Linked DNA regions of Homo sapiens. The protein of the gene in region 2 interacts with the protein of the main gene of each other region in a pairwise test. Each region holds a gene or a part of one and is shown on either strand. Other genes may lie near its edges.

The links.
Region 1: the proteins of MPPED2 (region 2) and NUP93 interact in binary tests that used the Homo sapiens proteins (3 or more experiments, as listed by UniProt).

The regions. Positions count from the first base shown.
Region 1 is NC_000016.10:56,831,129-56,834,628, forward strand, and holds part of NUP93 (nuclear pore complex protein Nup93), read left to right. Parts: intron 1-713; coding exon 714-879; intron 880-1,166; coding exon 1,167-1,260; intron 1,261-2,086; coding exon 2,087-2,278; intron 2,279-2,999; coding exon 3,000-3,126; intron 3,127-3,241; coding exon 3,242-3,314; intron 3,315-3,500. UniProt on the Homo sapiens protein: Plays a role in the nuclear pore complex (NPC) assembly and/or maintenance. May anchor nucleoporins, but not NUP153 and TPR, to the NPC. During renal development, regulates podocyte migration and proliferation through SMAD4 signaling.
Region 2 is NC_000011.10:30,412,294-30,415,631, forward strand, and holds part of MPPED2 (metallophosphoesterase MPPED2), read right to left. Parts: intron 2,049-3,338; coding exon 1,935-2,048; intron 1-1,934. UniProt on the Homo sapiens protein: Displays low metallophosphoesterase activity (in vitro). May play a role in the development of the nervous system.

The DNA.
Region 1 (3,500 bases), on a different chromosome or scaffold from region 2:
TAATCATTGAATTGATTCATTAAGTCTTTAAGTTCTCTTGCATTAAGGAACTGCTAAGCATTAATTTTCCTTGGATTTTGCTAATGTAATTGGACTTAAGCTCATACTCAAACTGAGGTTATATATATGTACATGTATGTAGAAGAAATGATGGCGGTTACTGTAGCTGTACTTGTGAAAAACTAGGATACTTTTCTTGGCAGCATTACTAATGTCATATCAAGAGATTGCCTCAAACCAGAAGCCCCTGTCTTGCTCATGTTAGAATTTAAAGTAGGGTTAATGTCTTAAGGTTCCCCCAGAAGGAGATTTGAGTGCAAGTTGTTTATTTAGGAGGTGATCTCACATGAATAAGGGAGTGTGGAGGCCAGGGAGGGGCTAAGACAGTTAAGGGAAGGATTCACTCCTGTCCATCACTGCTTGAGTGCTGCTGGGTTGTGCAATGGAGTTCTAATTCCCTGGCATTTCTCACCTGCCCATGAAGGCCTCAGCAAATAGAAAACCGGCAGGCCAATAGATACAGGTGCAGGTAGTTGCAAGTCAGGTTAAAGCGATGGTACCGAGGGGAGGGGATGGGGCAGAGACAGTGTCTCTTACCCCGGATGAAGGAAGGCTTCCCTGCTTTTATGTGTTTGGGACCTGGGACGCTTTCAGATGCCCTTGAGGATTTTTATTGAGTATGTATCTATCTGTCTGTTCCCTTATGTCTGTAGATTGTCCCCAGCTACGGAAAACAAGCTCCGGCTGCATTACCGTAGGGCCCTCAGGAACAATACAGATCCCTACAAGCGGGCCGTGTACTGTATCATTGGCAGATGTGACGTCACCGACAACCAGAGTGAAGTGGCGGACAAAACTGAGGATTACCTGTGGCTGAAGGTAGGCACTGTTTCCCCTGCCCACATAGGGCTTTACCCCTTTTCTGTGCTCAAGTCCCCGCAAAGATTTTACCTGCTTAATGTATGATGCCAATACAGTGATCAGGACCAGTGGGTTCCTCGTCTCCTGTCCCCATTTTTTGTTGTGTAATTCCCAGCTCATAACCATAGCCTTAAACACAGCTTCTAGCTGACATCATTGAGCATGGCTGCTGAACAGCTACAACTCTGTGCATGTGGCTCAGGGTGTCATTTGTACCAATGCATGTGTTTCTCTTGGGGATTTAGTTGAACCAAGTGTGTTTTGACGACGATGGCACCAGCTCCCCACAAGACAGGCTCACTCTCTCACAGTTCCAGAAGCAGTTGTTGGAAGACTATGGTAAGATTCTGGACATAACCACCTTTCCCTTCTCTTGTCCACTTAAGGTGACTACTTCAGTTTTCCTCTGGGAAAATTTTTCATCTCTGAACTTTTGTCTTTCTTCCAAAACTCCTATAGATTGTCAAGGCAAAACACAACAAAACTACCATTCCAAATTCAAATAAAGGGCATGTGGCCTTAAGAAATACATAAAACTTATATGGTCATACACAATAATCTGTTTTCTCTAATTCTTTGAACTGTTCTAGTAGACATATGCTCAGGGAGAGAAAAAGAAGACTTAGCTGTTGCTTCCTAGTCGATCGTACCAGTCACTAGATCTGAGCACAAAGGAGAGAGAAACAGCCTTTCTTCTTTTTTCCCGTATTTTTTAAAAACTGAGAAGAAAAGAAGATTCCAAATAGTGGTTACCAGTTGTTGCATTCAGATTTCTGTGACTGTGAGTAAACTGAAACTCCTTTGAAATCTTCATTTCTCTCCTTGAGTGACTTAACAGGGTAAAGGAGATAAACACTCTCTGTGGTCCATTTTAAGGTCCTTAGCTCTGTTTCTCTCCCACCTAATGCAAGCAGTTGGAGTTTTACAGCACAGTCACAGTTTCCAGTAATGTTATGAGGTCTAGAGAAGGTGGAGGAGCCAGGTCACATTTCACATGGCAGTTTACTGTATTCAGGGCCCCCTTGATCAATTCAGACTCAATCTGGTGCTTTCTTCCTGTCCAGCAAGTCCTGTGGGCTCACAGGGCTGCTGCCTGGGGGTTGGGCCACCAGTGAGCCCCTTCTTTCTAAGTTGGTTTTATCTCCTCTCCTCTCCTCTCTCCCAGGCGAGTCCCACTTTACGGTGAACCAGCAACCCTTCCTCTACTTCCAAGTCCTGTTCCTGACAGCGCAGTTTGAAGCAGCAGTTGCCTTTCTTTTCCGCATGGAGCGGCTGCGCTGCCATGCTGTCCATGTAGCACTGGTGCTGTTTGAGCTGAAGCTGCTTTTAAAGTCCTCTGGACAGAGTGCTCAGCTCCGTGAGTATTTGGGATTGGATTGACAGTAATGTAACCACAGCACGTCCCCCTTGGGGCGACGGTGGCCACAAAACCACAACCAATAAGGATTTGAGCAAAGGGTACCAGTCATTTTAGAGCATGTGGACAGTTGAGCTTTTTAGATGATTAGTGTTAAGGGTTCCTGCTTCCCCCCCACCCCCCAGCATTAGTATTCCCTTGAAAGTTAAGTATATAAAGTGATGTTCAAAGTACTAGCTTTGTGGCCAGTCTGATTGCCTGGAAAATGCTGAAGAAGCAGCCCCTAGAGTTATGGGTCTGATTCCCATTAGGGCTGGCTTTAATGACATTGGAAACCCCAGCCAGGCATGTGCATACCTGCCTGGGATGAGAGAGTCAGGGGAGAGAGAGGAAGTAAATGTGGATGAATGGCTGCAGGTTCCTTATTGTTGCAGCAAAGTCATCCCAGAGCACATGCCATAATCGTCAGTTGGATTATGTTTTCACTCAAAGACCAGCATATTAGTAATTTATGGCAAAGTGCTGTTTTCTCCACTCTGGGCCTGGGGATGAATTGAGGATAGGATGGTAAAAGGGACTGGCCAAAGCTTATATTAGCAAACTTTGACTGGGCTGCAGGAGTAGATGCTGCTGGGTCTGTGGATTCAGCTTCCATAGTTTCTGGGTTGCATGGGTCAGAGGGGCAGTGTGGTTGTGACCCATTCTGACCCCCACAATGCAGTCAGCCACGAGCCTGGTGACCCTCCTTGCTTGCGGCGGCTGAACTTCGTGCGGCTCCTCATGCTGTACACCCGGAAGTTTGAGTCCACGGACCCAAGGGAGGCCCTCCAGTACTTCTATTTCCTCAGGTAACATTTGCTTTTGACCATTTACTTCAGCTAGTTTCAATTTCTGCCATTCTGAGAATGACTATTAGAGACCTCATGTCCAGACTGGAAACTGAGTTGTTTATTTCCCTTACAGGGATGAGAAAGATAGTCAAGGAGAAAACATGTTTCTGCGCTGTGTGAGTGAGCTTGTGATTGAAAGCCGAGAGGTGAGTGGGTTTCCTTTTCTCTCCTCCCCATGGTTTTCAGTGTGCATGTCCCATGCTCATTCCGTATTGCGTGTTTACTTCAATATGGTTGTGGTGGATAAGGCCTAGGGAGTTTTTGGAGTTTCTTTGGTTTCTAACAATGAAAATATTTATTTCAGTCACACTGATTTTTAGTTTGCCTAAGAC
Region 2 (3,338 bases):
TTATTGGGAGAAAGTTGTTTCCCTAGGTCTTTGGTATATATGTTCCTTTGATAATTTTCAATATGATAAAATGTTTAGCATGTTTGCAAGTTGGCACATTTCCCTGAATACCTTATATTTGCCTTATAGCCTCTTCAACTAAGATTCTATGTTGGTATCAGGCTCTTATCGCATATAAAAACATAGCTGTGAAAAAAATAAAATTACCAAGATATAGAGAAGTAACTGAAAAGGCTTTTTTCCACATTGGCTAAAATTTCTCCAAGTAAAGCCTGTGGAGAACTTAATGAGGGTCAATGGAAAAATCTCTTAAGAAAAGAAAAGAGGCATTTAAAATCTGCGCTGTTTAGTTCTGGGGTCATAAAGTCTTGTTATCTCTCTCCATCAAGAGGTTGGTATTTGCCCTCTTCCTGCCCTCTTCAGCTGTCTTAAGTGAATAAAAGTGAGACAAGTTTATATGAATATGATCTCCTCCCTTTTAGGCAAGTTTATTATTTTGGGGCTTCAGTGGAATTCCCCAATTGTCTGGCTAGTTTAAAGGTAATTAATGATTTTTTTCAAAGATAAAATGCAAACTCATAGGCATGCTGCACGAATTCAGACCTGTTTTCAGAATAACAGTCCTCCAGAAATGTTGCTTAGTTTAGATATGAGGTCCCACCTCCCTAGTCTCCCCTCCAGGCATTCCCCCATCACTGGTGTTCCCTCCATCATACCTTAGGGCAGTACCCTCCTTTTCAGGGAGCATAGCTCAAAGCCAGGGCAGGCCGATATCCACTCTCTGGGAGCTGCACCCTGCTTTCCACCCACTCAGCTGGTACCTGCCCTTGGAGCAAACTGAATTTTCTCTGGCCTCAGTAGGATGATTTTCAATATGCTCTTTATTACCCACCTAACCAGGAAGCCACTGAATTTGTGGGCTTTGAAAAAGCAAACTTTGTTTTTTGCTTCCTCAGGCACACAGCCTTAAACACCTCAACTTGACTGCATATTCATAAGTAACTCCAGAGAGCTGCCATAAGCAGGAGCTAGAGAGAATATAGCGGCTGCCCACGTAAACACGGCCATTGCACACAAGCGTGTGTAACTGGGAAAATCTGCTAGGGACAGAAATCCTTAGGCTTGCTGAAAGAGGGCTTTGTGTCTGTCTCAAAGCCCAGTTACCCATGATTTGAAAAAGGCAGGTCGGAGAAAACCCAGATCCCTTGAAGATTCCTGTTAGGCTTTCGGTTCTGTGAACCTGACTCAGCTTACCTTGAAAGGCAGAAAAATGGCAACTGGACCAGTTCCTATTTAAGAGAGATTTAATTATTCTGCTTAACCTCAGCCTGAGCTAATAGCTCCGATGATTTCTGAGAAGTCTGAAATAGTTTTCTGAGGTTAGTAAGGAAAAGTCTACCTGCAAATGTGCAGGTTCCCGCCACTTCTGTTACATATCTTTCATTGCATGTCCTAAGCTATTTTTCAGAGAATGCCTTGTCTTCCTGGGTCTTTGTGTTAATTCCATATGAAACACAATATTTACAGGTAGGAGGGGACTATAGAGGCTTAAAATAGCTTCTAATATCCAGACCATTTCTTCTAACTCTCTTAAGGAGAAAATGACTCCTTGTATACCTTGGGGTTGCTCTAAAGCAGTGGTTATCAAACATTCCTCGTTAAAGCCCTGAGATTCCAGAAGCTGCCAGGGGGAGTGCAGGGTTTGCAGTTAGTAGACCAGACGTGCTTCCTACTTTCCACTCTGTTTACAAGAGAGAAGGTCCATATAAAATATTTATCAGCTTTATATTCAGATGTTTCTCATAAGACTTCATCTTATAAAAGGGTCCCGCTGCTAAAAAGTTTGAAAACAACTACTCCACTTATTCCTAGTTGTAGACTGAGATAGTGGACAGGGGCACAAAATGTTTTGAATTCTTTTCCGCTGTTCTTACCTTCATGGATTCCACCAAACACATGGAGCTTGGGCCGGACTCGCCTCTGAACCGTGTTTAACAGCTCCACACAGCCCACTCTTTGAAGCTCCTTTGGAACCCAGTCTCGAAAACCTAAGGGCAAAATGCAATCAATACACTTAATTTTCTTTCTTCAGGTAAGGTTTCATTTAGACTTTCAGGAAGCCATAACTCACAGAAGGTTTATTACATTATCTGTAATCCTAGCCTCTCCATTAAAGCTCACAATGGCTTTTAAGAAACTTTTCACTCGTCACTTTGTCTTCTTTAGGTTCTTGAAATTTTTTTTTGGTTTCCATTTTTTTTTCTTCCTGTTAATTAACATTTTTTTTTCTGTAGGAGATTTGATTTATTCAGCCATGGGTTTCAAATCTTCTTCATGAGCTCAATGACATTTATTCCCGGCAGTCCCATAATATCTCTTTCTCCCTCAATTCAGTTACTTTCGCTATTTTATTATATCTTTCTTATAGCAGTTTACTTCTAAGATGATTCAAAGAAGGACTGAGAGGAGCTGCCTGTAAACTGGTCACAAGATACCCAGCTCTCTTTAGATACACTAAGTCTTACCCCTTGTGGTTCCGGATGACCAAAGCTTTGGAAAGCTAGGTTGCTCCTGTGGTCCTGTCCTCTCCAGCGACAGGCAAAAATGTGACCTCACAGTGGCATCCAGCAAGCTGGGGCTAATTGACTACTTTTAAAGTAAAAGCCACTTAGTTCTACACTTAATGCAGAAAATCCATAAAAACTGACATCAATTATAGCAAAAGTCAGCTATCTGGATGATTATGGCCTGGAATGGAATCCATACGCCTCAGCAGGATAGGGCATAAAGAAGGCAGGTAGGATGAAAGGCTAAATCGTAATCTCTGGAAACCCATTCCACAGCGCCATTAGGTTATTTCTATTATTTAGAAATAACTGGGCAGTAAGGAACAGCTTTCTGCTTTTTCGGGCCAAACTGCAGACATGAACGTTTAGTGTCTCTGTAAAGACATATTCGCTGGGGTTTAAGGAGTGACTAGAGAGTCTGAAAATAGATGAAAGTGGGGTCCCCAGCAAAAATCTATCCAGCGTTTTCAAAACTTTTTTAATAGTGGGGCAGAATTCTTAAGCTACATTGATTGGCATATTACCTCATGCATGTGTTTTTCCTGAAGGGGGAAAATATTCCATTTCATATGCAAACATCTGAGAAAGCATCTTGCTTATACCATAACAGTGAAGTCTCACGGCACTGTGGCATCCCTCACCAGCAGGAAGAAATTCAAGGCCAGTCTCTCCACTCCCCTCTCCAATGTCACGTTTTCACAAGAATCCCAATAGCTATATTAACTAAGGTTTAACAATACCTTAGGAAGACTTTGCCTGACCTTTTATTTG